Linked DNA regions of Homo sapiens: regions 2, 3, 4, 5, 6 and 7 are each linked to region 1. Evidence: fine-mapped expression QTL. A gene starts in region 1. Each other region holds a variant in brackets. All regions are shown on one strand. Distances are from middle to middle.

What was found.
Region 2: its variant is fine-mapped to the expression of KANK1 in whole blood (INTERVAL, PIP above 0.99).
Region 3: its variant is fine-mapped to the expression of KANK1 in whole blood (TOPMed, PIP above 0.99).
Region 4: its variant is fine-mapped to the expression of KANK1 in whole blood (TOPMed, PIP 0.99).
Region 5: its variant is fine-mapped to the expression of KANK1 in whole blood (TOPMed, PIP above 0.99).
Region 6: its variant is fine-mapped to the expression of KANK1 in fibroblasts (GTEx, PIP 0.98).
Region 7: its variant is fine-mapped to the expression of KANK1 in whole blood (INTERVAL, PIP 0.99).

Annotation. Positions count from the first base shown.
Region 1 is chr9:502,029-506,547 of GRCh38, forward strand. It overlaps KANK1 (KN motif and ankyrin repeat domains 1), which reads left to right and starts at 2,667. Exons shown (of 12, transcript NM_015158.5): 1 at 2,667-2,726. LOC105375947 (translation initiation factor IF-2-like) reads right to left here and starts at 3,525. Exons shown (of 4, transcript XM_047424276.1): 1 at 3,232-3,525; 2 at 2,911-3,141; 3 at 1,669-2,793. The coding sequence starts at 3,525. The coding sequence ends at 1,972. RefSeq lists a silencer at 2,303-2,792.
Region 2 is chr9:652,408-656,926 of GRCh38, forward strand. All of the region lies in intron 1 of KANK1 (KN motif and ankyrin repeat domains 1), which reads left to right. Among named protein-coding and RNA genes, the nearest start is that of KANK1-AS1, 31 kb to the right of the region's middle. The variant A/G (reference allele first, on the strand shown) is at 2,274.
Region 3 is chr9:451,074-455,073 of GRCh38, forward strand. It overlaps DOCK8 (dedicator of cytokinesis 8), which reads left to right. Exons shown (of 48, transcript NM_203447.4): 46 at 938-1,044. It overlaps LOC124902108 (a long non-coding RNA gene), which reads right to left. Exons shown (of 3, transcript XR_007061389.1): 3 at 3,231-3,533. Among named protein-coding and RNA genes, the nearest start is that of DOCK8-AS2, 17 kb to the right of the region's middle. The variant C/T (reference allele first, on the strand shown) is at 2,477.
Region 4 is chr9:565,047-569,565 of GRCh38, forward strand. All of the region lies in intron 1 of KANK1 (KN motif and ankyrin repeat domains 1), which reads left to right. Among named protein-coding and RNA genes, the nearest start is that of KANK1, 63 kb to the left of the region's middle. The variant T/C (reference allele first, on the strand shown) is at 2,338.
Region 5 is chr9:694,294-698,812 of GRCh38, forward strand. The region is part of intron 2 of KANK1 (KN motif and ankyrin repeat domains 1); the gene reads left to right. Among named protein-coding and RNA genes, the nearest start is that of KANK1-AS1, 11 kb to the left of the region's middle. The variant G/A (reference allele first, on the strand shown) is at 1,860.
Region 6 is chr9:750,130-754,388 of GRCh38, forward strand. LOC124902109 (a long non-coding RNA gene) reads right to left here. Exons shown (of 4, transcript XR_007061394.1): 2 at 222-456. Among named protein-coding and RNA genes, the nearest start is that of KANK1-AS1, 67 kb to the left of the region's middle. The variant T/C (reference allele first, on the strand shown) is at 2,141.
Region 7 is chr9:710,331-714,849 of GRCh38, forward strand. It overlaps KANK1 (KN motif and ankyrin repeat domains 1), which reads left to right. Exons shown (of 12, transcript NM_015158.5): 3 at 474-3,134. It overlaps LOC107987042 (phosphatidylinositol 4,5-bisphosphate 5-phosphatase A-like), which reads right to left and starts at 312. Exons shown (of 1, transcript XM_017015393.3): 1 at 1-312. The variant C/T (reference allele first, on the strand shown) is at 2,269.

The DNA.
Region 1 (4,519 bases):
AAAGTACTGAAACATACTACAGCATGGATGAGCCTTGCAACTATTATGTTAAGTGAAAGAAGCTAGTAGCATGTTGTTATGTTCCTAGTTATATGCAACGTCCAGAATCAGCAAATCCATAGAGACAGAAAGTAAATTAGTGGTAGCCAGCGGCTGGGAGTAGGGAGGAATGGGGAGTGACTAATGGGTATGGGGTTTCTTACTGGGATGTCAATGTCTGGAATTAGTGGTGATGGTTGTGTGACTTTGGGAATATATTCAAAACCACTGAATTATACATTTTGGGAGTAAATTGTATGGCATGTGAATTGTATGTCAATAAAATAACTAAATTAAAAATGAAATTTCAAGTATAAATCCACTAAAAATTCAGAATCTGCCATACTTTTGATTGATTCGTTTTGCTTACTCTTGAGGGCCTATCAATGTTTACTGACTAAATGCAAAGAGGGAGAAATAAAGGAGAGGTGAAGGCTGGGAATTCTGGGGATGGAGAGCACTTTTTTTTTTTTTTTCTTAGAGTCGTGCTCTGTCGCCCAGGCCAAAGTGCAGTGGCATGATCTCGGCTCACTGCAACCTCAGCTTCCCGGGTTCAAGGATTCTCCTGCCTCAGCCTCCCGAGTAGCTGGGATTACAGGTGCACGTCACCACGCCCAGCGAATTTTTTTGTATTTTTTAGTAGACATGGGGTTTCACCATGTTGGCCAGGCCGGTGTTGAACTCCTGGCCTCAAGTGATCCACCCATCTCGGCCTCACAAAGTGCTGGGATTATAGGTGTGAGCCAGTGCACCCGGTCGAGGGCACTATTTATTTATTTATTTTTGAGACAGGGTCACACTCTGTAGCCTGGACTAGAATGCAGTGGCTCAATCTCTGCTCACTGCCGCCTCGACCTCCAGGGCTCAGGCGATCCTCCTACCTTAGCCTCCAGAGTAGCTGGGACTACAGGCGCGCGCCATCGCGCCCAGCTGATTTTTTTTTTTTTTTTTTTTTTTTTTTGGTGAAAACAGAATTTCACTGTATTGCCCAGAACTCCTGGGGTCAACTGATCTACCTGTCTCGGCCTCCCAAAGTGTGAGGATTATAGGCCTGAGCCACTGCGCCTGGCCGACGAGCACTTTTAAAATGCAGGAGTCTTCCTGCCTCTGATATCTCATCCCTTATCACCATGCAAACAATTCTCCTTTTCATAGAAGAGTAGACATTTGGGGCGGGGTGGTGGTGGTGGGGGATTTTAGAAAATATCTACTGCATCCAAATGCCCTACTCTACAGACGAAAAAGCAAGGCCCAGGAGGAGGAAAGAGTTTGCTTACTGCCACCCAGTGAGCTGGCAAAGGCGCTGAGATTCAAAATGAGCTTTCCTGCCTTCACATATCTTCCGGCTGCCCTTTGCCTATTCCCTAAACAGTCAGGAGCCATCAAGTTCAGGAATTTGCAGGTGTGCTTCGCTGTGAACTGTGGAAAAGCAGCGTCTTCTCCCCAGAGGCAAGCATGTCGCCTTGTGAAGTTTGATGGCTCTTCACTTGCACACTCACAAAAAAGACTGAGCGTGTGTAACGCCCTGCTGGATGTGTGCGGTGCTAGAGAGCTTGGGGGTGAGGGGAGGACTCTCTCCCTTAAGAAAATCAGTTGACTGCAGAGCTAACATTGTTTTTTGAGTAATACCTGGTTTTTATAAAGTCGTCCCTTCAGTTCCCAAGCTCCTCTTCTGTTTGTTCAAGCCACCTTCAATTTGAAAAAGACTGAAGTCACAGCTTCTCAATCCCTACTAATTTCTCATGGACCTACTGGATTGCTCCAAATCGAGTATTTGGGACTGAACTAGGAAGCCAGTTCAATCCTGAGCCCCCGAGGCAGGCGTTGGGTCTTCTGTGGAGTCCCCAGAGACCTGCAACCTTCTGAACACGCATCCTCCCCTTTCCGCCGAGGACTCTGTCCTGCAGCCGAGCCAGGGCGAATGCACGGAGGTCACAAGGGAGGTGCCCTTGGAGGCGGGAGGTTTCTGGCCGCCGGGGCGACCGTGCTGACGAGGCACCTGCAGGAAACAGAGCTCTGCACGCTCCGGTCCCCCTCACCCGGGGAGGGAGAGGAGGTACAGAGGCGCTGGGGGAGGACGTCGAGCAGGCCAGCCTCGTTGCCAGAACCCCCGCCCCAGCCGGAGATGGGAGCACCGCACCGTCTCACGGGGGCTGGATTTCTTCTCCCCTTGCGGGTGTGTGTGCGAGGATGGACGTGGTAAATACGGGTTGGCAGAAGGAGCGAACCGCGGTGGAGGAAGTTCTTCTGCTTAGTTCTCGCCGCGGCGAGGCCCGCGGGCCAGGCGCGGCGACGAAGGTGCACGAAGGTGCCCCGCGGGCCTGGTGGAGTTGCAGCGGCGCGCAGGCGCACTGAGGGCCGCCCGCGGCCGGCTCCGCGGTACAAAGAGCGCCCCCGCGGGGAGCCGGGCGTCCTCTGGGCGGAGGGAGCAGCCGGGGCTTCGCCGGCCCGCGCCGTTCTTCTCACGCGCCGCTCCGGGGCGCAGCCACAGCTGTCGCCCACCGCGGGTGAGAGGCTTGCTGGTCCGCCCCGGCTTCCCCGCCCCGGCGGCGGCCGTGCGGTTCGGGCTTTAATTCTGGCGCTTGCCAGCCGGGGCCGACTCCGCCCCCTGCGCCCCGCCCTTCCCCGAGCTCCGGGTCCGCGGCGGAGCGAGCGAGCGGCCGGCAGGTTGGGAGGAGCGGCCGAAGGTGAGTGACGCGGCGGGGCCGTGCCGCGCCCCGTGCCGCGGCGAGGTTGTCCCGGAGCGCGAGGCCCCTACCCCTGCCTCGGGCTGGCCCCGCGCGGAGCCGACTTGGCGCGCGCCGGGGTTGCGCGGCGGCCGTGGCGGTGGCGGAGGGCAGCCCCCGCGGGCTCCCGCTCGTGCGGGTGAACCCGGCGGCCTCGGGGCGGTCCTGGGGGGGGGTCCGAGAGGTGGCGTCGGCCCCGCGGCCGTCGGAGTTTGGCGCGCTCTGCAGCGGCGGCGCTCGGCCGGTCTGGAGGAGGGAGAGGCGCGCCGGGCACGGAGCAGCGAGAAAGTTCGGGCCGGGCCGGCCGGCGGGAGGGTGCGGGCGCCTGGCTACCCCGGCCCGGCGCTCTGTCCCTCGGATGCCTCTGGGCCCTTCCCTAGCCCGGGGCGGAACGGGGGACCCTCTCTGAAGCGGCTCTCCGTGGAGTTGGATGTTGCCCTTCGCGGGAGGGAGTGGCGGTCAAGACCCCTTTATCCTCGGCCCCAGAGGGGCAGGTGGCCTCGGGTCGCCCTCCGCCAACTCCGAGGTGGCTTCGGCCGGGGCTGGAGGGCGGGGAGGCGGGGGAGGGGCGTGGGCGCTGCGGCCTCTGGGGCGGCCCAACCCGGCGCGGGCAGCGTGGGTTTCCGAGGTCCCGCGGTTCCAGGTCGAGGGAAGGTGTAGGGGCCCTGAAGCGGGCTGGTCCCCGAATGTTGCGTTTTCTGTGCCGCTTTGGGCAACACGCAGTGGCGCTCGCGGCAGCCACGGCTCCTTGACCGTTCATCTCCTTCACCCGGGTCCCGTGGAACTTTCAGAGGCAACTGTTCTTGGTGGCTCTTGCGGGTCAGCACGAGCCGTGCTGCACGAGCGTGACCTAGTGAAGGCCTTGGGCGAGTTGGCGTTAACAATTTATGGCGTCCGCCAGCGCTCGCTTTCCGCACGTGGCCTCTGCGGAGGGTCAGCCCATCTTATTAAATAGTGGATTCTATTAGACCCTGATACCCGAGGCTAATAAGGAAGCTTAATCATCCAGATGTGTAATCGTGCAGTTCCTTTCCTCACCGTCATTGCCCCCCACCTCTGGAGCTGAATGGAAATGAGGGTCTGTTTGCTTATATTGAATTCCTGAGTTTATTCAAGTTCATTTTTAGGTGGCGTTAACAGCTAAGTAGCTGTTCATCTGCCAGTTTCTCCTTTCATCCAACTTTCTCTACTAAAATGTTGAGCACGTTTTATTTAAAAAAAATTGAAGTGTAATAAACATATAAATTTACTCTTCTAAGGTCAAAATTCAGTGGTTTTTAATATATCCGTAAAGTTATGAAATCATCACTACCATCTGATTCCATTTCGTTGCCCCCAAAAAGAACCCCTATACCGATTAGCAGTCATTCTTCCATCTCCCAGCCCTTCTCCCTCATTTTAAGGCAGCTACTTAGGAAGTTTTTCTAAGATAGAGACTGAGTGAGAAAACTGAGAGGTGATTAACTTTGATCCTTTTTCTGTTACTAGGTTTGGGGAAAGGTGCTGCTGAAGCAATGGAAGAAAAATTAAGTATTGGCTGTCCTATGGGGAGGTTAAAATGAATAAGGATGGAAGAGAAGCTGCCAGTAGAGGAATAATTGCCTCCTGTAGAGACCCACAAGTTGGGAATACATTTTATCCCCTTAGGGCACAGGGATGCTTTCTGGGCTCTAGACTTGCCTAGTCCATAAATCACTCTAGTCGAGGTTCTGCCTCAGCGAAAGTGAGTTCTGGGTGTGTGTGTGTGTGTGTGT
Region 2 (4,519 bases), 150 kb after region 1:
AGCTACTCAGGAGGCTGAGGCAAGAGAATCACTTGAATCTGGTAGGCAGAGTTTGCAGTGAGCCGAGATCGTGCCATTGCACTCCAGCCTGGGCGACAAGAGCGAAACTGTGTCTCAAAAGTAAAATAAAGTGTTTGCAGTGTGAAGAAACAATCTAAATATTCAACAATAAAGGAAGGTCAAATGAGACAAAGATGAAAGGGGAATACTATGCAGCCATAAAAGAGAGATGTGGTTGTTATCTTAGGAAGATGACTATAATATGAAGTTAAAAGTTACAAAGGAACATTTGGGAAGAATGTATAGGTACATACATGCTTATAAAACCACAAGAAAGAACTGGGAAGCAATACACCAAAGCGTTGATAGTAGTAGAATTACGGCTGATTTTTTACTTTCTCTGTCATGCATTTCTTTATTGTTGAATATTTAGTACTAGTACATGGAGAGGGAATAGAAAACTTAATTTGGAAGGGATGGGGAAAAAGTAGCCACCCTGGGAGCTGAGTTAGAGGAGAACACAGAGCCCAGGTGTTTCAGCATCTGTTCCGGCGTTGGCGGTGGGAATTCTCTGAATAGTCCTCACTGTGCCAGAGAAGCTTTCTGCGCACAGCTGGGTCCTGTGAGGCAAGACCTGTGTCCTGCTGACTCATACACAGCATCCCATATGGCCTTAACTTTATTTAGCAACGTCAGCTCAAGGAAGCCTTGTGTTCCCTTTGGGCCCAGGATTTAGAAGAGCATAATCATAGAATGTCTGTCAGGCCTGGAAGTGTCATTAGGGCTGTCCTAGTCTGGACATGAAGAGTCTGAGGCCCAGAGCATTTAAGTAACGTTCCCAGAGTCCCAGAGGTAGTTCGAGGCCAACTGGAAATGAAAATGCGGTTCCCAGGCTCGTGGTCTCTCTAGTGCTACTACTTTGCTTGTCTCCAAGCTCTGCTCTGGTGGATGAGTCTCCAGTTCTCACAAGCAGTTTTTAAGGCCAGAGCAAAAGGTTTCCAGGTAAGAGAATTTTTTTTGTCATATAAGAGAAGATTAAATTAATAGGACTTTTGTTCAGATCTGCATTCAGTGAGATACATGGAAATTCAGAGGTTATTGACTTTCCTTGGGTCTGGCCTCTTTTGGATATTTAATAAAGGCTGCAAAACCTTTCCCTTGAACGATGCAAGTTTGCTGAAAACCACAAAACTTTGCATTTGATTTCGGAGGTTTCAAGAGCCCTGTAAAGCCTGTCCCTGGGTTCTGAATGTCCTTTGTCTTGTGCTCCCCTGTTTTCAAGCAGTTCTTTTGCATTTGGAGGTAACAGAACTGTGATCTGGTTTGGTTTTCATACCTTTGTTGCAGATATGTTTTCTTCAAATAAAAAAGAAGGAGAGGATAGCAACTAGGAAGATGAACAAGCCTCATCACATTGGATACTTAGTGTTGTCTTTGTGTTTACAGTTGCTGTTAGATTGTCATTCCAATAAAAGTAAAATTATGTAATACTTTTTAAAGCTCCCATCACACTAGCACAACTGCTTTCATTTTTTGCAGAGTGTGCCACCCTGTTCCTTTCCACATGGATACTTCCTGGTTACAGCCAAAGACTGTTCATTATGCCCTTTCATGCTTCCACATGAAAGACACAAACTGAGGCTGAAATTGAGTGGCTTCTTACCAGAAATTAGGTATTTGAATAAGAGCAGATCGTTTTTACTTAAAAGATGTAAGTTTTGAAAATGACCACATGCAGCAGTTAACACACTGATGACTGGACTTACCTGAAGAGTCTCTGATTCAGTAGCCCGTTGTGGGGCCCAAGCATTTCTAATAAGTCCTCAGGTGATGCTGACATCACTGGTCCACGGCCAGACTTTGAGAAACAGTGGCCCAGAGAATAACAGTCTTAGAAGGCAGGGTGTTTTCCAAATTTTGCTGAAGACAAGAATCAGTTGAGAATGTTTGTTAGAAATGTAAATTTTAACACCATGTCAGACTCACTGAATCAAAATCTCTGGGAGAATCTTGGAATAGTATATTACCAGATCTGGAGGAACTACTATTCTCTTGCTATCAGGTAAGCCCCATAGAGTGTCACTTGTTTGCAAACCACTCACAGGACAATAGAATTTTTTTTTTCAAACACTAACTCAACCAGAAGGGACAATGTAATATATTTACCACTCAATCGTTTCTCATCCATTGTCTGCTTTGACCCTATGAGCCCATGAGCACCTAGCAGCATCCACATTTTTAAATGAATTTTAAGTCACCCTTCTAAGACATAA[A/G]TATTTTTGTTTCAGGTACCAATATATTGTTTGAAAGAGATACCAGAATACCTGCTTTCTGAGAATTTCCTCAAGTTTTACTGAGTTCCTTTTTAATAAGCATAGTCACAATATGCATTTGTGTGTGTGTGTGTGAGAGAGAGAGAGAGAGAGAGAGAGAGAGAGAGATAAAGGGAGGAAGGAAAAAGAAATGTGGTTTTCTGCCAAGTTCAAGTTCCCTAGTGATGGTGATGCTGCTGATCTCGGAACACGTTTTGAGAACCACTGGAATAGACCAATAACTCTCAAATGTAGCAGTTGGAATCTCCTGGAGGAGCTTTGAAATATACTTCTGCTCAGGTCTCACCCCCAGAGATTAGTTCAATTGGTCTTTGATGAGACCTAGACAGTAATTCTAATAATCATCCAGCCGGGCGTGGTAGCTCACGCCTGTAACCCCAGCACTCTAGGAGGCCAAGGCGAGTGGATCACCTGCGGTCAGGAGCTCGGGACCAGCCTGGCTAACGTGGTGAAACCTCGTCTCTACTAAAAATACAAGAAATTAGTCGGGCATGATGGCACACGCTTGTAATCCCAGCTACTCGGGAGGCTGAGGCAGGAGAATCGCTTGAACCCGGGAGGCAGAGGTTGCGGTGAGTGGAGATCACTCCATTGCACTCCAGCCTGGGAAACAAGAGCAAAATTCTGTCTAAAAAAAAAAAAAAAAAAAAATCCAAGATTGTGAACCATTACTGTAGGTTGCTCCAGATAAAAGGTAATGGGTTAGGAAGCTTAAGACTTGATGAGGAAAAATAAAGGTTAAACCAGTGCTCCTTCCACTTCAGTGTGCATACAAATCACCTGGGGGTCTTGCTGGAATGCAGATTGATTCTGTAGGTCTAGGGTAGGGCCCAAAATGCTGCTTTTTTAAATCAAGTCAGGCAGATGCTGCTAAGATTGCCCAGGGGTCTACACTTTGAGTAGTGAGGTGGTTAGAAAGTGTTGACCTATGTAAGTGCTTATCAACACACAGTTTTTATATATTTTTACGTAGTATAGAACAAATAAAAGCAATGTCATTGAGATTTCAGATACCTTAGAAACAATAAATATTTTGCCATTAATGACTATTTCCCTTCCCTTGATGGCTAAAACGTTTTGTTTTTGCTTCTCCCTACCTGCTTACTCAGAGTTTCAATCAAATGTTTGTAAATTAATTTTGCTTTAGTATGACACATGTAGTAACAGGCCTTTCCCCTTTGTAACTGAGTCCCAGGATTCACGGAGTTTGAGGATCTTGCCTTCTGGCTTCCTCCTTGCCTCAGACCCTGCCCTTTAGGGGTTACTGCCCTAAGAGGCTGAAAGTTTAGTAATGCCCCAGAGCCTCGTTGCAGGAGCTAGTCACTTTTGGCACTTTCTTGCTGTCAGACCGCAGGCTCTGGGAGCCAGTCTTCTTGGGACATGGCTTCATCCTGTGTCTCTGGCTTGAGCCCAACCTTTCAGGCCTGGGTTAGGGGTGAAGCCTTTTATCTGGCAGGTCCCACAGTCTGGCGCCTTTCCCAGCGTGGTGGAGTTGAGACCTTGCTGTCAGAGCCTGTTCAGAAGGAGAGAGGGAGAGACAAGACCTTCGCGTGAGGAGGAAAGAGTTTAAGTCCCGTCTGTGGAATCTGTTTCCCCTGGCTTGTTGAATTTTCTCAGCTGAACATGGCAGAAGTGGTTGATATTTGAATTAGAGGCTATGAAAGTGTCCTTGGGAAATGGGTGGGGCTGAGCCAGTGGTCTTCCCTTTTGCCTCTACCTCATGCTGACCAGGGGACAAGGCTCTGTCTCCTGGGTGTGGCCTGTCATTGGTCAGTCTGTGACCATACTGCTATTCTCCAAGGCATTCCTCAACAGAATGGGATCAGGCTTTTTCAGTCATTTCCCATTTTTAAAGGACATCTCCATGGCAGATGCCCCTACTCCCTCCCGGTGCCTGAATATTTGCCTGTCTAGCGTGGGTAGGTGAACGTCAGCAGAACTCTTGAAGAATCACTAAAGGGATGTGCTTGTCCTAGCAGGAGAGCCTGTGACAATAAAAAAGCAGAGAATGTTCTGAGTCTCCTGTATTAAAAAGGGAAAAGCTTAAGTGAGGTTTATTTCCACTAAAGGATAGCAACATAAGGCAGCTTGACCTTTAGTGTGACTGGAGCACCGTAAATGCTACTTCTACTTTTTTCCTTTTTTTTTATTGTGGTGAAAAACACATAGCATAGATTTGCCCTCTG
Region 3 (4,000 bases), 51 kb before region 1:
AGGCCGAGGTGGGTGAATCACTTGAGGTCAGGAGTTTCAGACCAGCCTGGCCAACATGGTGAAACCCCATCTCTGCTAAAAATACAAAAATTAGCCAGTGTGGTGGCAGGCGCTTGTAGTCCCAGTACTTGGGAGGCTGAGGCAGGAGAATCCCTTGAACCCGGGAGGTGGAGGTTGTAGTGAGCTGAGATTATGCCACTGCGCTCCAGCCTGAGTGACAGAGTAAGACTCTGTCTCAAAAACAACAATAAAAAAGAAAATAAATTTGGGCTGTGTATGGTGCGCACGCCTGTAATCCCAGCAATTTGGGAGGCTGAGGTGGGTGGATCCCTTGAGGCCAGGAGTTCAAGACCAGCCTGGGCAATGTGGCAAAATCCCATCACTACAAAAAAATACAAAAATAGCCAGGTATAGTGGCACACACCTGTAGTCTCAGCTACTTGGGAGGCTGACATGGGAGGATCACTTGAGCCTGGGAAGTGGAGGCTGCAGTGAGCAGAGATCATGCCACTGCTCTCTAGCCTGGGTGATAGAGCGAGACCCTGTCTAAAAAACAAAAACAAAACACACACACACAGGGAAAATACATTTATACTTCTGAGTGTTCCTCTAAAACTTCAGATTCCTCCTAAGAAATCAAAATTTCCTGAGATGTCCAAGACCTTCCTTATTTTTTTTTGTTTATTTCAAACCAACTACAAAATTAAATGTTCAAACTAAGAAGTCACTCCAATATTTTCTCCCAAGCAATTTAATTTCCTTCATATATGTATGAATATATTCATATATATGTGTGTGTATATATATATACATATATATGCATATACATATACATATGCATATACATATATATGTATGTGTATATATATATGTGTGTGTGTGTATATATATATATATATATATATTTTTTTTTTTTTTTTTTTTTTTTTCCCACCAGGGACCACTGGAAGTAGCCCAAGTGTTTTTGGCTGAAATTCCTGCTGATCCAAAACTCTATCGACATCACAACAAGTTGAGGTTATGCTTTAAGGAATTCATCATGAGGTAAGAAGGAAAATGGCTGGGAATTTCAGTAGAGCAGTGGTTCTCAAAGTGCAATCTTAGACCAGCAGCTTCAGCATCACCTGAGAACTTGCTAGAAAGACAAAGTCTCAGGCACCCTCCAGACCTGCTGAATTGGAATCTCTGGAGGTGTGGCTCAGCAATGTGCAGTTTAACCCGCCCTCCAGGTGATCCTGATGCACACTGAAGTTTGAGGACCACTGCAGCAGAGCAACACTACTTGAACTACTAATGAGTAACTAACACGTCAACTATGAAACGCTTTTGTGGCTAGCATCCCGTGTGCCTCACAATCACTTGTTGTAAAACAAGTATCATCATCTTCCTCATTTTACAAAAGAGGAATCAGAGGTTCAGAGAGAGGAGATAATTTTACTTAAGGTCACACAGACAGTTGGCAGCAGAGATGAGCTCAAACCAGGTCTTCTGAATCCAAATAGTCCACATGTCCATCAATGTGCTGATATTCCACTGATGCACTAGAGTCCCAGAGGTTCTTTGCATTGGCAGTCATTGTAATGTTACAAATCTTATAATATCTTATTTTTAGAAACTTAAAAACATACACTGCCTCAAATTGAGAGAGGCAAGTTCTAAAACCAGGCTTTTCAAAGGTATTATCCTGTGACAGTTCCCCATGTCAGACAAGTCTCATCTCTGTTCCTTAATTCTGCAGTGGAGCTGGCTTCAAGAGCAGTCAGTTAGGAACTGGGTCTTTGGTCAAAGCCTTGTAATTTATTGCAATACAGACAGATATATTGGGTCTCCTATGGTCCTAAAAATATGAGTATGAAGGATGTGATGGCATTTCACCTATAAGAGAAAAGGACTTCAGAAAAATGTGTAGCAATATTTCTTTCTATTCAAAACCTTAGAGAAGAATATTAAGTATAAGAATATCTTCACTTGGCAGATGGGGATAAAGGAGACTAAAAGTTTGCTAAATTCAGTGAAAACTCATCAAAATGCTAGCATTTGTGAGGTTAGAGATATCTCCTCCTTCACAGGCTTTTGCGAGAGGTCCGCAATTTTGCTGCATATACAGGAGACACACTGTGCCCTGCAGTGAATCACAGCCGCTTGGTAATAGGATGTTTGTGTGGCTTTGCGTGTTTGTATTTGTGCATGTGTGTGAACATACTCACAGATTATCTTGATTAATGTTTTGATATTTGAATTGTTTCCTGTATTTGACAACAATTCTGACAGAAAAACTAGTTGTTGTTGTTGTTTTTTCAGTACATAATACGTATCTTTTAAAAGGCTAGAAAAATATTTGGGGAATTATTTTATTATTTTATTTTATTTTGAGACAAGGTCTCACTCTGTTGCCCAGGCTGGAGTACAGTGGCATAATCTCAGCTCACTGCAACCTCCACTTCCCAGGCTCAAGAGATTCTCCTCCCTGAGCCTC[C/T]CAAGTAGCTGGGACTACAGACGTGTGCCACCACATCTGGCTAATTTTTGTATTTTTGGTAGAAATGGGGTTTCACCATGTTGGCCAGGCTGATCTTGAACTCCTGACCTCAAATGATCCACCTGCCTTGGTCTCCCAAAGTGCTGGGATTACAGGCATATACCACCGTGCCCGGCCCTATTTTTTATTTTTTGTGGAGACAGGGTCTCACTATGCCGTCTAGGCTGGTCTTGAATTCCTGGGCTCAGAGATTGGGGGCTTAAAAAAATTTTTTTTCATATATTTTTATTTAAAATTCATTATGGTTGAATGCTTCCAAAGTTGACTATGCCCCAGGACCTCTAAAAGGACCTATGAAATGTTTGAAGAGCACTCACTATATTCCAGGCATGATATTAGTTATGGGACTACAGAGATCTGGCTTGTTCCTCTGTTCTTAATGACAGGACATAGCCCTGCATGGCTGAATAATAGAATGCAGCATATGCACAGAACTTTAAGAATGACTAACTACAGGACTATAAAGATCAGAAAAGAGAAATCAGTTTCAGGCTGGAGCATTTGTGGGAGGCGTTATGGAAAAACACCACTTAAATCTTGTCTTGACTATATACGTGGAAGAAAGGCGCTAGTGGGGAAGAGGGAGCCAGGACAGTGGCCCTGCCTGATCCAAGGTATCACTTTCAGCTGCTTTAGTTACCCATGGTTTGAAAGTATTACTTACAATATGATATTCAGAGAGAGAGAGAGAGACCACATTCACATAACTTTTATTTCAGTATATTGCTGTAATTGTTGTTAATCTCTTACTCTATCTAATTTGTAAATTAAGCTTTATCATAGGTATGTATGTATAGGAAAAAAACATAATATATGTAGGGTTCGGTACCATCCGCAGTTTCAGGCATCCCCTGGGGGTCTTGGAACCTATCCCCGAGAATGAGGAGGACTGAGTACCACTGAGTGGACCAGCAGGACCACGAGACTCTGTCAGGAATGCCTGTGATGCACCGGGTTCCTCTAAGTCCAGCTGGAGCAGCGTGTTCTCATGAGCATGCTAGGACAAGGAGGAAAGATTGGAAATATGATAATATCAGTAAATGAGGCTCTGAATACAATTTAAATGTTTAAGAAAACTTGTCAGGAGAGTGATTTTCATTTACTTCAGTTTGCCTCAATTTTTTCTACTAGTTATAAATCTTGCAATCCAGTATCTCACGGGTATGATCCTTTCCATGACACCACCTAGGTAAAATGTACTTACAAAATCCCTACTAAACATGCGTTTCTCATTAGCTCCCAGCCCCAGGAAAAGTTACTCCAAAAAGAACCAGTGCCCAGTAAAACTAGTCCCAGGCAAGAGATACAAGAGGAAATGGACTTTCCTAGGGGTCGCTCCTTTAACAAAGTCATTAGAGTTTCAATAATGAGGCTATCATTCTCCCCAGATGGCCTACAGAAATGTTGGATTTTCAAAATCAAATTCACCATTTTAAAGTTGTTCTCCTACCCTTTTAATGGTGA
Region 4 (4,519 bases), 63 kb after region 1:
GGTAGAGAAGAGAGACCAAAGTGTGACTTTAGAAACAGAAAAATCCCCTTTTCTTCCTTTGCAAATCCATACCTATATATTTTGAAGACCACTAGGCATGTCAGGTAAACTTTCAGCAATTTAAATTAATCAGAGAGCTGGAGAACATCTATTCCTGTTAAGATCTTTCCCACCCATTCAACTCCCTGACTAGTTACTGCTAAAGAGAAAAATGGTAGCAGCTTCATCTTTAAGACTTAAGCCATAGTTCTTGCAATGGGAAAGTCAACCCTAAAGAATGGTTTCATGTTTGCTCCCATTCTACCTTGTGCAGACAGTAGTTTAAGGATGTCTTCTGCAGAGCATAACTTGTGTAGTCACCCAAAAGGGTCTTCCAGTTCACTGAGACCATGGTATTGCAGTAAAGAAAGAGTTTAATTGACGAAGAGGTGGCTAGCCGCATGGGAGATGGAGTTATCACTCAAATTAATCTCCCTGAAGTTTTGGGGGTTGAGGTTTTTCAAGGATAGTTCGGTGGACAGGGGACTATAGAATGGATGTTGCTGATTGGCTGGGGATGCCATCATAGGAGTGTGGAAAACAGCCCTCATTTGCTGAGTCTGCCTCTGGGTTAGGGGCCATAGGACCAGTTGAGTCATGAGTCGCAGGTCCAGGTGGAGTCAGCCAGTCGTCAAAAATGCAGCAGTCTGAAAAGACATCTCAAAAGGCCAATCTTAGGTTCCGCAAGAGTGATGCTATTTACCACAGTAATTGGGGAAGTTACAAATCTTGTGACTTCCAGAACAATGGCTGGTTATCATTTATACCTACGCTTTTAACAAAACTTTTATTTTAGGTTCAGGGGTGCATGTGCAGGTTTGTTAATATGGGTAAACTCGTGTCATGGGGGTTTGTTGTACAGATTGTTTCATCACCCAGGTGTTAAGTTAATAATACATAGTTATTTTTCTTCACCCTCTGCTTCCTCCCCAACCTCCACCCTCCATTAGGCTGCAGTGTCTGTTGTTGTCCTCTATGTGCCCATGTGTTCTCATCATTTAGCTCCCATTTATAAGTGACAACGTGTAGTATTTGGTTTTCTGTTCCTGCGTTAGTTTGCTGTGGGTGATGGCTTCCAGCTATCCATGCAAAGGACATGATCTTATTCTTTTTTATGGCTGCATAGTATTTCATGGTGTATATGTTCCACATTTTCTTTATCCACTGTACCACTGATGGGCGTTTAGGTTGATTCCATGTCTTTGCTATTGTGAATAGTGCTGCAGTGAGCATATGTGTGCATGCATCTTTATGATAGAATGATTTATATTTCTTTTGGTGTACACCCAGTAATGGGATTTCTGGGTGGAATGGGAGTTATATTTTTAGAACTTTGAAGACTCATCACATTGTCTTCCACAGTGGTTGAACTAATTTATACTTCCACCAATACTGTGTAAATGTTCCTTTTTCTCTGCAACCTCGCCAGCACCTGTTATGTTTTGATTTCTTGATAATAGCCATTCTGACAGGTGCGAGATGGTATCTCCTTGTGGTTGTTATTTGCGTTTCTCTAATGATCGGTAATGTTGAGCTTTTTTTCCACATACTTGTTGGCCGCATGTGTGTCTTCTTTTGAAAGGTGTCTGTTCATGCCTTTGCCTACTTTTTAATGGAGTTGTTTTTTTCTTATAAATTTAAGTTCCGTGTAGGTGCTGGATATTAGACTTTTGTCAGATGGATAGTTTGCCAAAATTTTCTCCCATTCTGTAGGTTGTCTGTTTACTTTGTTGATAGTTTCTTTTGCTGTGCAGAAGCCTTTTAGTTTAATTAGATCCCATTTGTCAATTTTTGCTTTTGTTGGAATTCCTTTTGACATTCTCGTCACGAAATCTTTGCCCATTCCTATGTCCGGAATGGTATTGCTTAGGTTATCATCCAGGTTTTTGAGTATTACATTTAAGTTTTTAATCCTTCTTGAGTTGATTTTTGTATATGATGTAAGGAAGGGGTCCAGTTTCAATTTTCTGCACATGGCTAGCCAGTTATCACAGCACCATTTATTCAACAGGGAGTCCTTTCCCCATTGCTTGTTTTTGTCAGGTTTGTCAAAGATCAGATAGTTGTAGGTATGCGGCCTTATTTCTGGGTTCTCTCGTCTGTTCCCTTGGTCTGTGTGTCTGGTTTTGTACCAGTGCCATGCTGTTTTGGTTATTGTAGCCCAGTAGTGTAGTTTGAAGTTGGGTAGTGTAATGCCTCCAGCTTTGTTCTTTTTGCTTAGGATTGCCTTCTATGCCTACATCTTAGCAGAATTCAGGCCCTTCTCATAACCCTAACCTTGTGGTGTTTCATTAGCTT[T/C]ACAAAGTTGATTTAGTTTTGGAAAGTGCTATTCTCATTCTTGCTTTAAAGTTAAACTATAAACTAAATTTTCCCCGAAGTTAGCTTTGCCCATGCCCAGGAATGACGAAGGACAACTTGGAGGTTAGAAGCAAGGGTCAGATATCTCTTACTGTCACAGTTTTGCAAAAGCAGTTTCACTTCCCTCTTCTAAGTACCTTCTGCATTGATTGGAGCCAGCAAAGAGAACTTTTGCAGCATTTCTTAGTTTGAATGTGCCATATAAATGAAACATGTTTGGAAATGTGAAACCAAGTCATCCATGAGAATGTTTTCCTCTGAAAGGCAGCACTTCTTGATAAGTCCCTTCCTCATGGAACTTTGGTGCAGTGTTGGCCCATTTTAAAATTTATTGGTTACCCAGGGAGATGCCCGAGCTTATCAGAATTAGAGTCTCTCATTTGAGTACGTTCTTGCAGTATAGAAGTTTGCAGATGTTTTATAACTTTAAGAGGCCCAGTGGTATTGAATTTAGAGTTAATTTTTAAAACTGGCTCCAAAGTCACCAGCATGGACAAAACTTACAGTCTTCCAAAGAGAGAGTGCCAAAGTTCAACGCTTGGCATTGTTGGTTTTTTTTTTTCTTTGTGCCCATATCAGGTAGCTATGATTATCTTCATTTTACAGAGAAGAAAACAAAGCTCAAGAGTTAATTTGACTAAATTCACAGATGAGTGAAGTATGAGGTAGAGAGTGATCCTGTGTGAGAATAGTTTACATTTATCTTGATGTGGTTATAACCACTACCTTATCTATAATGCATGTTAAAAATCAACTTCTCAAGATTTTTTACACCAAAGGCAAAAATATTCAAATGTTGATATAGTCCCTTCCATTCATTTTTATATTTTTGTTTAAAATCTTCAACATCATACCCAGTTTTCAACCTAACTTTATAAAGTAAGCATTTCCTTAATCTTCATAAACATGTTTAAGATATGTATCATAATTTAACAAATTATTAAGTTTCTGAAATTTTTACAGTAGTGAGGCAGTGGATGTATTTATGTGTAAGTCTGTGGGGTTTTTTTCCTGTCTCTCCCATAGAGGCAGAGACTTGCTCTGTGACCCAGGCTGGAGTGCAGTGGCATGATCGTCACTCTGTTGCCCAGGTTGGAGTGCAGTGGTGCAGTCATGGCATGCTTTAACCTCAAACTCCTGGGCTCAAGCTATCATCCCGCCTCAGCCTGCTGAATAGCTAGGACTACAGGTGTGCATCACCATGCCTGCCTAATTTTCTAAAATTTTTTTGTAGAGACAAAATCTCAATATGTTGCCCAGGCTGATCTCGAACTCCTGGCCTCCCACCTTAACCTCCCAAAGCACTGGGATTACAGGTGTGAGCCACCATGCCTGGCCAAGGTTGATTTTTTAAAAACATTATTTCCTTAGTATGTGTATGATTAGAAGCAAAATTACAGGTCAGAAGTCACATTTTAAAAGATCATGACCACTTAAAAAACCCTTAATATGTTTTGCCAAATTTATATCTTTTAAAAATGGGATCGATTTCCACACTCATCGGGGTATATTTGAGTATGTAGCTCACTGTAGACAGAGCTCCTGGGGAGGGAGGAATGGCTCTGGTGCTCTTCTACCCACCTGTAGAGGTTCAGCTGGGGACCAGCTCCACTGTGGGGCATTGGGAGGCTGTTAGTGCAGAGGTATCTTCTCAGTATCTGCCTGACACACTACTGTATCCAGCTGCCTGACCCAGTCCTGCCCACCTGCCTTCCTTTCTTCCTGCCTCCCCTCTGTTTTATCAACTTTGTCTCAAAAAACATAGCTTCCTATCTCTATATGTTCGTCTCCTATTTATGGTCCCTCAGTATGTTATAGTGCTTGCTAAGGTTTGAATGTCCCATGTGAATCTCATGTTGAAACTTAACCCCCAATGTGGCAATATTGAGAGGTGGGGCCTTTAAGAGGTGGCTCTGCCCTCATGAATGGATTAATCCATTCATGGATTAATGGATTAATGGGTTATCAGGGGAGTAGGGCTGGTGGCTTTTAAGAAGAGGAAGGGACCTGAGCTAGCACACTCGGCCGCCTCACCATGTGATTCCCTGTGCTGCCTCCAGACTCTGTCAAGTCCCCACCAGCAAGAAGGCCCTCACCAGATGCAGCCCTAGACTTTGGACTT
Region 5 (4,519 bases), 190 kb after region 1:
GTGCTCCTTTTCTGCTTTTCACAGAATTACTCTCTGAACTGGCACATTTCTTTTTTACGCTTAGAACAGCATGTTACTTTTGAAGAAAGTTTGGAAAATAACAGTCCAAGCTCATTCTCTTCTGTGCATGCATGATTGATTTGGGCTGTATTTCAGCAACAACTTTTAAAATGAGACAGTGGACATTAGAGAGCAGCATAGTTGGGGTTGCACTTAGGAGCCCATGGCATTTTGGCTGTTTTGAGACAGATTTGGGGTAAAGAGTTGCTGCATCTTGTAGTTGGCACTGAACACTGGAGAAGAGGGCCACTGTATAAACCGCAAGGCCCCTGTTACCATCACATGCCTCCCTAGCACAATGTGCCCTTTATTAAGACAGGCCGTTCCACTACTGAGAATAGTAACCCTTTCCGCTGTCTTCCCCTCACTCTTACGTGCAGCCTGGCTTCTGGCCTCTTAACCCATGCCCAGAGTAGAATTGGCAATACCCAGGAGGGACACTGCACTGGGGATTGTTAGGTCATGCCAGTTAGGATGCAGCTGGAAAGGTGCTGCTGAGTGGGACGTGCAGAGGGGAAGACTGCAGGCTCTGTCTGCCTGAGCTCATCTGGTCTGACACCTGCCGTGATTCATTTTTCTTCATGCCATGTTAAGAAATTTTGTATCAAGTCTAGTCGACAGTTACTCATAGCCTGGAAGCAACTTTGGAAATCAGAGTTCCACTGACCCCCCTCATTTTAAGGGTATGAATCACATCACTGCATTGTATGATTCCAGGGCTCTCTTGCCCATGGCTCGTGCATGAACTAGGAAGTGATCATAGTTCCTGTTCTTGTTTTATGAAAACAATAGTATACCTTCCCCCAACCTAGGCAGGCCATTCAGGACGACTACCCTGGAGGTGCTCTGGGTGGCTTAAAGCACCGTCTTTGCACAGTGTGTTAGAGAGCACTGTGCCCTGAGGACTTCGGGAGAGCTGCAGAATGAGTGTTCAGAATAATCGGCACTCACCTTTGCCCTCATGTTGTGAGATGGAGATATTTTAACCTGGCCATAATATGCTTTAAAAGTTGGGGGGTGTTTGTCTGCTTTTGCTTTTATTTCCTTCCTGTGCTGGACTGGGACTCCCCCTTATCTAACTGGTACATACCACTCTGCCCAAGCAGTGCGTGTGCACACACACATCCCCTACAGCTCCCTGCTGGCATCTCCTTCATACACTCTTAAGAAGAAGAAACCAATGTAGAACTCAAGATTTTAGCAGACTTACTTGGTCTTGAACAAGTATCACAAATACCTTAAACCCTGACTTCGTGGGGGGGGGGGCAAGGTATAGAGGAGGAAGGGTTCTGGATCCTCTCTGGGGGGCCAGGGTTGTGTTCTTCTCCAGACAACAGAGGGTGATCCAGTACCACTAGTAGTGACAATAGAACCCACCCATTGTTCTAAGTGACAACACACTGATGCAGGTACTATTATTTTCTCAAACAATTGGAATATAGTCTAATTTGCCGACAGCTGCAAAGCAGCAGAGCCAGGATTCAAACCCAGGCAGTCTGGCCCCAGAGTGCCTGCTTCAAATCACTACATCTCTTCCTCTGTTATACTTATTCATCAGTAGATGCCTAGATGTGGGGCTTTACACTTCAGCAGATACTAAGAGGGCCATGTACCAAGCGCCAAGTACTGAGGAATACAAACATAAATACTGCTTGAGGGCCAGGCGCGGTGGCTCATGCCTGTAATCCCAGCACTTTGGGAAGCCCGGCTCACGAGGCCAGGAGATCGAGACCATCCTGGCTAACATGGTGAAACGCCGTCTCTACTAAAAATACAAAAAATTAGCCGGGCGTGGTGGC[G/A]GGCGCCTGTAGTCCCAGCTACTCGGGAGGCTGAGGCAGGAGAATGGCGTGAACCCGGGAGGCGGAGTTTGCAGGGAGCCGAGATCACGCCACTGCACTCCAGCCTGGGTGACAGAGCGAGACTCCGTCTCAAAAAAAAAAAAAAAACTGCTTGACTTCTGCCTCCCCTAGACACTTAGAGTCTGGTAGAGAAACACAGGCATGTGCTTGCTAACTGTAACACAGTTCCGCGTATATAGGCAAAGTGACTTAGGAAACAAGAGGGAAGAAGGGGACCAGTTATTCCCAGGACAGAGCAGTTGAGGGTAAGTAGGGCTTTACAAAAATGAGGTATCTGGGTTGGGCCCTTTAGGACAATGCAGCTGATTTTGACAGATGGGAGAGTGTGGGGAAGGGTGTGCTGGGTAGAGGGGATAGAATGAGCAAAGATAGATAAGCTTGAAAATTTCTCAGTACGTTGAGGTTTGGGGTGGGGAGGAACCTGGGAGGTGCTGGATTGGGGCTAAATTGTTGACATTTCGTGCCACAGAAAAGAGCTTTTAGGCTTTCTTCTTTAAAGTGGAGCTCCTGGCACATCACTTTGCAAGGATAGTGATTGAGAAGTTGTAGACGTTTCCAGGAATACCTGAAACAAATGTAAAATTTCTCAAATAATATGTAATACAGGAAAGCAAAGCCATCTGCCCCTGAAAACAGGCTGCATATTTGCAGTATGAGTAACAGCAGAGTCTGGGCTGTGCTCCCTAGTGGCAGGCTGACTGCACTCGTGCACCCTAAGGACATTGATGCACAGATGAAGAAAGGAAAGACAGAAATAAAATTTATTTTTAAATAATTTTAATCGTACATAAAAAGAGCTCTCATGTCTTCCTCACCCAGACTCAGATTTCCCAGTGGTTAACATTTTACCGTATTTGTTCCATCTGTGTGTGTGTGTGTGTGTGTGTGTGTGTCTGTGTGTAGAAATGCAGTTGTCATGTCTTTTTGGCCTCCTTCCATCTGAAAAGTTCTCGTTTTTACCTTTTTTTCATGGCCATGATGGTTTTAAAAAGAGAGGCCTGACATTCTGTAGAATGTGTTTCAGGCAGGGTCCAGGCCATGCCTTCTTGGCAGGACAGTGCAAAAGTGATGCTCTGCTCTTCCCCATGCAGATACATGATGTCAACTTTGATCACCTGGTCGAGGTGGTTATTTGTCAGCTTTCTCATCATAGAGTCACCATTTTTTTTTATGATTGACATTTCATGCCACAGAAAAGAGCTTTTAGGCTTTATTCTTTAAAATGGAGCTCCTGGCACATGACTTTGCAAGGATAGTAATTGAGAAGTTGTAGACGTTTCCAGGAATATTTTCTGGTGAGATATTCTGAGACGACATCAGTATCTTAGTCTTTAGTAGGAAATCTCTACCCACTAGCCTTAGCTAGTGATTCCTACCTGAATCCGCCACTGTTCTAATAATTGGTCCATGGTGATTTTCTGTTGACATAATTCCTTGTATATATTAGTTGGTATTCCTACATATTTATTATAGCATGATGGACTCACAAGTAGATACCTATTCTCTGGATTGTAACTTGTTACTATCATTAATCATATTATTTTCATGCTCAAATTATCCTAGATTTGGCTAGTGGGGGTTCAAAAGAGTTTGAATCAAATATACCCTTGACACTGGCATTAAATAGCCAATCTGATGTGTGCTGACGATTGAGACTAATAACTGGTAGGCGGAGGGTGTTATCTGAGTTCTAGATATGTATTTATCTCAGACAGTATGGGTTACCTGCAACAAGATCTGTGGTAGGCAGGCCAACAGTAACACTCGGGACCCTAGAGGCAAGCCAACCTGAAATTCAGCTTGTCAGAGACCATCTGGTGGGTGGAAGTTTTGCGTTTTCAGAGTATATTGTTTAAGTTCCCCAGGCCTATCGTCTACCTTTAGCTTTCCCTGTTGGCCAATTCAGGCCCTGGTCAGATGCGGGTGGATAGGTACACAAAGCTGGAAACAGCGTGCTGCCCGCCTTTCTCTCCTGCCTCCAGAGACACTTGTTGGCTGTCAGGGTCGGTGTTGTCTTAGCCTCACAGGCATTTTCAGTCCTTGCTCTTCCCATCCTAGAGTTTCAAACACAGAGCGAGTCTGTGTTCTGCATCTCAACATGCTAAATCAGAACCTGGATTCCCTAAAATGTTGTCTCCTGTTTCTTCCTGCCCTCACTCATGCCATATCCGTCCTTCCCAGGTTAGATTTCTCATACTTCAGTGACCTTCAGAAAAGGAATCCCATCACTTTTCTCTGCGGTGAGTCATCCATTGGTTTAAAGAAAAAATTTTCTTTTTTAATAGCAGAATGAGGTAACAGAGCCCTAGAAGACAAGCCCAGAGACCGGATCCTGGTCTCCAGCTCAGCCCAGAGTAGCTGGAATTTGTCAGACCTTCTCAGTTTCCTCCGAAGTATTAGGGGCAGACAGAGTCAAGGCTACAGGCTGGCTAGCCCAGATGCAGACAGTGTCAAAGTTCTCATTGTGGAATACCACCAGAACTTATCTTACTATTACCACTTACCATCTAATTGGGTAGGTAAAATTCATATGGTGCAAAGGAGTTTGTTATACCTAGACAAAAATTCATGGGGACTTGAATAATCCATGGAAACCCTAA
Region 6 (4,259 bases), 250 kb after region 1:
GAAGGAGCTGGCATTTTAAGAATCCAGCTGCCCACTGCATCTCCATTAAGACCTTTGTTGATTAAATAGGTAAGAGGATGGAAAACATATCCCTCATTTTCATAAAATGGAAGCTGCATAACAAATATTCCTATTTCTAAAACCAAATGTCAATCTTGTATTTGAGCCAAAATAACTTTTACACTTGTTCCCCATTCCCCAACCCAGAAGGAACTAGTTACCCAGCCCTAGAAACCACCTGGAAGGCTAAGGCTGTACGACTGAGGGCGAGAGAAAATCCCTGAGCTGCAGACAGGCAGGTGCTGCTTTGCTGTCACTGGTGCAGGCAGCTCGATGCCTTGTTGAGGCTGGTTGTAGGAGAGCAAGTGCCAGCTGGGCAGGCCGCTTCTCATGTGTCGGGCAGCAAAGAGATTCTTGCTATGGTCCCATCTGCTCTTTTAGGAAGTACTGGATGTGCTTAAACAGGTAATAAGGAAAATATTTATTAGGTAAAATCCCTGAGAGTTCAGAGAGCTCACCCACCCCCAATCCTGCCTAAAATATGTCACCCCCACCCCCAGAAAAATCCAGTCTTCCAACAGGAAGCTTATTAGGATGAAATCTCATGCTTCGGTTTGTAACACCATCTGCCAGGACTGAGAAGTTCCGGTGCCTAGCTGAGAAATACTAGTTGAATGAATGAGTGTAAAAAAATAACTGATGGTGTTAGAAGTCAGGAGTGTTGCCATGAGGGAGCTGGAAGGAGCCCAAATGGGGCTGGTGGGCTCCTGGTAATGGTCAATTTCTTGCCTGGGGGGTAGTTGCACTGTTATGCTCACTTTGTGACCATTCATCAGGCTGTAGACACACGTGTGTGCTTTCCTGTATGTATATTAACTTCAATTTTTTTTAAAGTTTAAGAAAATGAAAAAGTTTGATCAAAAAAAACCTTGGGAAGGAAGGTGCAGATTTGAGAGTCAATATAATCAAAGAGATAGTGAAAGAAGGTAAAAACTGGAAACTCTTAGCCCTGCTATTTCTTGAATGTGACCACATAGTTTTGCATGATGGCCATTGTGGCCCACTCGTAACCTTGAATAGCAGTCACGAGGGCTGTTCTCAGATACTCCAGTTCTTTTTCTGGGCACAACAGGATCGGATGTACTACCCACACACTTTTGAAGTTACACTTGGCCATGTGACTTCTCCAATGAAACAGAAAAGGTTATGTGTCAGTTCCAGATGGAAGCCTCAAAAGCCAGTGCAGTTTACCGTATCTTGTACTCCCCTTGTCACAGTGATGATCACGGAAGCAAGTGTTGACACAGACATCCCATTAGTGTCGACCCTGAGTGACTACGTGGAATAGAGTTTCCTTGCCAAGCTGTGTTGCAGGTGTATTAGGAACAAGAAATAGTCCTTTATTATGCTAAGCCAGAGAAGCTAGGGAGTGACTTGCTGTCACAGCGTAACTTAGATTTTCTTTATCCATACAAAAACTGGTTCCTCGAAGTGAAGTGCTGCTGTGTAACCAAATGGCTTAGTTGATTGGCGGACAGCAACAAAACTGTCACTGGGGACTTAATCATAGAACAATGACAACTATTTGGATGACTATTTTCTTAATAATCCCCAGGGATGGTACATACCAGTACCATCCTAGTTGCAGAGAGAGAATGTAACCTATTATCTACAGTGGATGCCTTAGGGCACTAGGGACTACATATTTTTGTGAAAGGAAAGCCATTTCCTGTGTACAGTCTGCCTAGATTGTCTCTTAGAAACGTGTAGCTCTCAAACTTTGGTGTGCATCGGAATCCCCAGGAGGGTTTGTGAAAACACACTGCTGGGCCTCAACCTCGACTTTCCAATTCGGTAGGTCTGGAAAGAGGCTCAAGAATTGGCATTTCTAACAAGTTCCCAGGTGGTGCTGATGCTTCTGGTCCAGAAACCCCACTTTGAGAAATGCTGCTCTAGAGGAAGGGCTCTGATAAGGAGGATTCCTGTCCATCAGGGAGCTCTAAAGTGTCTGTTCTTTCATCTTTGTAGGCTTTCGTCTTTTGCAGTTTCCAGTGACTAAACCTTATGAGTTAACTTGTTCCCTGTGGAACTTTTGCTTCCCAGTATAAAAAACAAATTCTGCAAAGATACCATTGCCCAA[T/C]AGGAAGTCTTTCTACAGCTTGTACAATATATCAAGTGTTTATAAATCCTGTATTCATCCAGAATTTGGCCATAGAACTTGACTCACAGCAGTCTTAAAAAAAAAAAATGACTCATACATTTCCCTTAGAAAGTAATGTTTCTTTATGCTAATCCCATGAGTTTCTGTGTCAGCTCACTCCCTTATGAATGCACATTTTAAAAAATCATGGTTGGCCGGGTGCGGTGGCTCATGCCTGTAATCCCAGTACTTTGGGAGGCTGAGGTGGGTGGATCGCCTGAGGTCAGGAGTTCGAGACTAGCCTGGCCGACATAGTGAAATCCTGTCTCTAATAAAAATACAAAAATTAGCTGGGCATGGTGGTGGGCACCTGTAATCCCAGCTACTCAGGAGGCTGAGGCAGGAGAATCGCTTGAACCCGGGAGGCGGAGGTTACAATGAGCCGAGATAGTGCCGTTGCACTCCAGCCTGGACAACAAGAGCAAAACTTTGTCTCAAAAAATAATAAAAAAAATCATGGTCTCCTCTGGAAACCCAGGTGGCATGGAGGAGAGTGTGCTGCACTGCTGCCCTCTCAGCTGCTGCCTCTGCATTCCATCCTGGGTTCTGATTCTGCCATCAGGCAGAAGTGCACAGTGTTTTTCCTTTCCAGAGCAGAAAAACGGTCATCCTAGGTGTTCACACTGAGATGCAAGAGACTGAGTCATCTGTGTTGGAAAGCCACAGGGGTCCAATGAACCCAGGAACCAATTGAAGATCCTCTTGCCTAAGGACACATATGGTATGTCCACAGCGCTAAGTTCAGAGACCAAGTTGAGATGAGTTAGAAGAGGGAGAAGACATCAGTGTTTCACTGGGAAAGGAGGCAACTTGTTTATATCTTCTCTCATCTGTAAATTCACCTCCAAGAGACAAGACACTCAGAAAGTACACTTGCTGAGATTGATTAATGGAAGGCCTTGAATGACCAAAGGAACGTTAATGAAGTTCCCCATATGCTTCATTCAGTCATCATCAGAGATATATGACCACTACATAACCAAAGAGCCAGAAGCTTGGTGTCTGTCTTATAAACCTTGCTATAGATATTGGTCTGTAGAACATTTTTTTTTTTTTGAGGCGGAGTCTCACTCTGTTGCCCAAGCTGGAGTGCAGTGATGAGATCTTGGCTCACTGCAACCTCCACCTCCTGGGTTCAAGCGATTCTCGTGCCTCAGCCTCCCAAGCAGCTCGGATTACAGGCACACACCACCACGCCTGGCTAATTTTTATATTTTTAGGAGAGCCGGGGTTTCATTATGTTGGCCAGGCTGGTCTCAAACTCCTGATGTCAGGTGATCTGCCCACCTGAGCGTCCCAAAGTGCTAAGATTACAGGCATGAGTCACTGTGCCTGGCACATATTTAAAAAAGTAGAGCACAGTCATTTTACTTACCTGTGTGTGTCGGAGTTTAGGGACTCCAGCTGAGGACAAACATCCTACACTTGCCAGTGCACAACAGTCTTGGGTTCAGAAATTTGTTTTGCCAAATTCTTGTCACTGCTTCTAATCCTTTTTAAAATTGGGGGCCCAAACACTGTCATCACCCACCAGTAAGTCTTCTGAAGATTACCTCTCGGCCGGGTACGGTGGCTCACACCTATAACCCCAGCACTTTGGGAGGCCGAGGCGGGTGGATCACCTGAGGTCAGGAGTTGGAGACCAGCCTGGCCAGCGTGGTGAAACCCTGTCTCTACCAAAAATACAAAAATTAGGCGGTCGTGGTGGCTTGCACCTGTAATCCCAGCTACTCAGCTACTTGGGAGGCTGAGGCAGAAGAATCCCTTGAACCCAGGAGGCAGAGGTTGCGGTGAGCTGAGATCACACCACTGCACTTCCAGGCTGGGCGATAAGAGTGAGACTCTGTCTCAAAAACAATCAATTAATTAAAGATTACCTTTCAATGATCGGTACCTACATTTACCTCTGCATGGAAAGGAGTTTCACCCAGGTGCCAACATGATGAACATTAACTGCTATTAGCAATCCACCCATCCGGGTAGACAGGCTGTCAGCCAGAGTCTACAGAAACGTAGGCAGTCACTCTTCCCTTTGCTTCCCCCTCCTGTTCATTTGATG
Region 7 (4,519 bases), 210 kb after region 1:
ACCCAAGCCGGGCGCAGTGGCTCACGCCTGTAATCCCAGCACTTTGGGAGGCCAGGTTGGGTGGATCACCTAAGGTCAGGAGTTCGAGACCAGCCTGGCCAACATGGTGAAACCCTGTCTCTACTAAAAGTGTAAAAATTAGCCAGGCGTGGTGGTGCACCCCTGTAATCCCAGCAACTCAGGAGGCTGAGGTAGGAGAATTGCTTGATCCCAGGAGACGGAGGCTGCAGTGAACCGAGATCATGCCATTGCAGCTCCAGCCTGGGTGACAGAATGACCTGTCTCAAAAAAAAAAAAAACAAAAAAAAACAAAAAAAACTTGCTTACCCAGCTGTTGTAGATCCAGGTTCAAAACATAGGTGTGTCAACTCTTAAAATCATACCAGCTTGCTGTACTGCAACAAACACAAATATTAGTTTTTACCATTAGGTGTATTGCATGTCATTATAATATTCTTTTCTCCCTCTTCTAGGAAAAGCAGGTGATATTCTCAGTGGAGACCAGGACAAGGAACAGAAAGACCCTTACTTTGTGGAGACCCCCTATGGTTATCAACTAGACTTAGATTTCCTCAAATATGTGGATGACATACAGAAGGGAAATACCATCAAAAGACTGAACATCCAGAAGAGGCGGAAGCCGTCCGTGCCATGCCCAGAACCCAGGACCACATCTGGTCAGCAAGGTATATGGACTTCCACTGAATCCCTCTCATCCTCCAACAGTGATGACAACAAGCAGTGCCCCAACTTCCTCATAGCCAGAAGTCAAGTTACATCAACTCCAATCTCAAAGCCACCTCCCCCTCTGGAGACCTCACTCCCTTTTCTTACCATCCCAGAAAATCGACAGCTGCCACCTCCCTCACCACAACTCCCAAAGCATAACCTTCATGTCACCAAGACACTGATGGAGACCCGGAGAAGACTGGAACAGGAGAGAGCCACCATGCAGATGACACCGGGTGAGTTCAGAAGGCCCAGGCTGGCCAGTTTTGGAGGCATGGGCACCACAAGCTCCCTCCCTTCTTTTGTGGGTTCTGGAAACCACAATCCTGCCAAGCACCAGCTTCAGAATGGATACCAAGGTAATGGGGATTATGGTAGCTATGCCCCAGCTGCTCCCACCACTTCCTCCATGGGGAGCTCCATCCGCCACAGCCCCCTGAGCTCAGGGATCTCCACCCCAGTGACCAACGTGAGCCCCATGCACCTGCAGCACATCCGCGAGCAGATGGCCATTGCTCTGAAACGCCTGAAGGAGCTGGAGGAGCAGGTGCGAACCATCCCTGTGCTCCAGGTAAAGATCTCTGTCTTGCAAGAAGAGAAAAGGCAGTTGGTCTCACAGCTGAAAAACCAAAGGGCTGCATCCCAGATCAATGTCTGTGGTGTGAGGAAGCGGTCCTATAGTGCGGGGAACGCCTCCCAGCTGGAACAGCTCTCCCGGGCCCGAAGAAGTGGCGGGGAATTATACATTGACTATGAGGAGGAAGAAATGGAGACCGTAGAACAGAGCACGCAGAGGATAAAGGAGTTCCGGCAACTTACAGCAGACATGCAAGCCCTGGAGCAGAAGATCCAGGACAGCAGCTGTGAGGCCTCCTCAGAGCTCAGGGAGAATGGAGAGTGCCGGTCTGTGGCTGTGGGTGCCGAGGAGAACATGAACGACATCGTCGTGTACCACAGAGGCTCCAGGTCCTGTAAGGATGCAGCTGTAGGGACACTTGTTGAGATGAGAAATTGTGGGGTCAGCGTGACAGAGGCCATGCTTGGAGTGATGACTGAAGCTGACAAAGAAATTGAGCTGCAACAGCAGACCATAGAATCCTTGAAGGAAAAGATCTATCGCCTAGAAGTACAGCTTAGAGAAACCACCCATGACCGGGAGATGACTAAACTGAAACAAGAGCTGCAGGCTGCTGGATCGAGGAAAAAGGTTGACAAAGCCACGATGGCCCAGCCGCTTGTTTTCAGTAAGGTGGTGGAGGCAGTGGTGCAGACCAGAGACCAAATGGTCGGCAGTCACATGGACCTGGTGGACACGTGTGTTGGGACCTCCGTGGAAACAAACAGTGTAGGCATCTCCTGCCAGCCTGAATGTAAGAATAAAGTCGTAGGGCCTGAGCTGCCTATGAATTGGTGGATTGTTAAGGAGAGGGTGGAAATGCATGACCGATGTGCTGGGAGGTCTGTGGAAATGTGTGACAAGAGTGTGAGTGTGGAAGTCAGCGTCTGCGAAACAGGCAGCAACACAGAGGAGTCTGTGAA[C/T]GACCTCACACTCCTCAAGACAAACTTGAATCTCAAAGAAGTGCGGTCTATCGGTTGTGGAGATTGTTCTGTTGACGTGACCGTCTGCTCTCCAAAGGAGTGCGCCTCCCGGGGCGTGAACACTGAGGCTGTTAGCCAGGTGGAAGCTGCCGTCATGGCAGTGCCTCGTACTGCAGACCAGGACACTAGCACAGATTTGGAACAGGTGCACCAGTTCACCAACACCGAGACGGCCACCCTCATAGAGTCCTGCACCAACACTTGTCTAAGCACTTTGGACAAGCAGACCAGCACCCAGACTGTGGAGACGCGGACAGTAGCTGTAGGAGAAGGCCGTGTCAAGGACATCAACTCCTCCACCAAGACGCGGTCCATTGGTGTTGGAACGTTGCTTTCTGGCCATTCTGGGTTTGACAGGCCATCAGCTGTGAAGACCAAAGAGTCAGGTGTGGGGCAGATAAATATTAACGACAACTATCTGGTTGGTCTCAAAATGAGGACTATAGCTTGTGGGCCACCACAGTTGACTGTGGGGCTGACAGCCAGCAGAAGGAGCGTGGGGGTTGGGGATGACCCTGTAGGGGAATCTCTGGAGAACCCCCAGCCTCAAGCTCCACTTGGAATGATGACTGGCCTGGATCACTACATTGAGCGTATCCAGAAGCTGCTGGCAGAACAGCAGACACTGCTGGCTGAGAACTACAGTGAACTGGCAGAAGCTTTCGGGGAACCTCACTCACAGATGGGCTCCCTCAACTCTCAGCTCATCAGCACCCTGTCGTCTATCAACTCTGTCATGAAATCTGCAAGCACTGAAGAGCTGAGGAACCCTGACTTCCAGAAAACCAGTCTGGGTAAAATCACAGGTAGGTGGTACCCTGAGGACCTGGGAATGAGGAAGGATGGGGGAAAATGTCTTTCCAGAAGCTAAGGATTATTTTTTAACTGCTGGAACCATTTTTGGAGGAGAAATGGAGAAAGTTTTAGAGTGGTAATCTGTAGAATGAAAACTAAGAATCAAAATCCATAAGCACCTCTGCTGATGCTTATTATCTGGTAGCCTCACTGGCCTCTGGCTGAGGACTAACGCTGGAAGAAAAGTAAACTGGTGTTGGCTGGCCTAGAGGTTGTCTTCTGGGGCTGCTAGTTTGGTAAGATGCTTTATTCTTTGTCTTTCAGTTATTTACTTGCTCATTATTTATAGAACTGCCTTTAAAAAATCCTACCCTGTTTGTACCCACTATTACCAGTATATTAGCAATTGAAATACTGGCATAAAATGTTTTCAGTTAAAACGTTTATGAGAGGAGAGACTCCATTAATTCATTCTTTAATTCAGCAAATAATTATTGAATTTGAGCCAGGTGCAATGGTACACATCCGTAGTCCCAGCTACTCTAGAGGCTGAGGCGGGAGGATTGCTAGAGCCCAGAAATTTGAGACCAGCCTGGGCAACATAGTAAGACCTCCATTTCTAAAAAAATATGAAGTAAAAATCATTATTACTTGGATTCCTACTCTGTCTCAAGCTATAGGCTGTGAAGATAGTGTGAACAAAACAGAACAGAGCCCCTGTCCCTGCGGTGCTTACATTCTAGGTGGGGTGCAGGATATAGACAGTAGACCTATAACATGTCAGGAGGCGATAAATACTGTGAAGAAATTAACTCCGGTTATGGGAACAGCGAGTGGTAGTGGTCAGGGTGAGGGCTGTTTGAGATGAGGTGGTCAAACTTGGAGAGAAGGGAGTCTTTTCCCACTCATTTTTTTTTTTTTTTTTTGAGACAGAGTCGCTCTGTCACCCAGGCTGGAGGGTGGTGGTGCCATCTCGGCTCACTGCAACCTCTGCCTCTCAGGTACAAGCGATTCTTGTGTCTCAACCTCCTGAGTAGCTGGGACTACAGGTGCCCACCACTATGCCCAGCCACTTTTGTATTTTAGTAGAGATAGGGTTTCACCACATTGGTCAGGCTGATCTTGAACTCCTGACCTCAGGTGATCTACCCACCTCGGCCTCCCAAAGTGCTGGGATTACAGACATGAGCCACCACACCTGGCCCGATAGGCGCTTACATTTTTGTCTGTCTTATTCTTTCTCGTATTCATTGGGATTCCTGCTCACTCTTCCTTCTTGAAATTGAAGCTAATAATCAGAAAGCCACCCTGGATGATTTTATGGCTTACAGTAATTCCCTGTGAGCCTTACCAACCTGATTTTGCTTGTGACCATGTGCACTGCCTCTCACAGTGT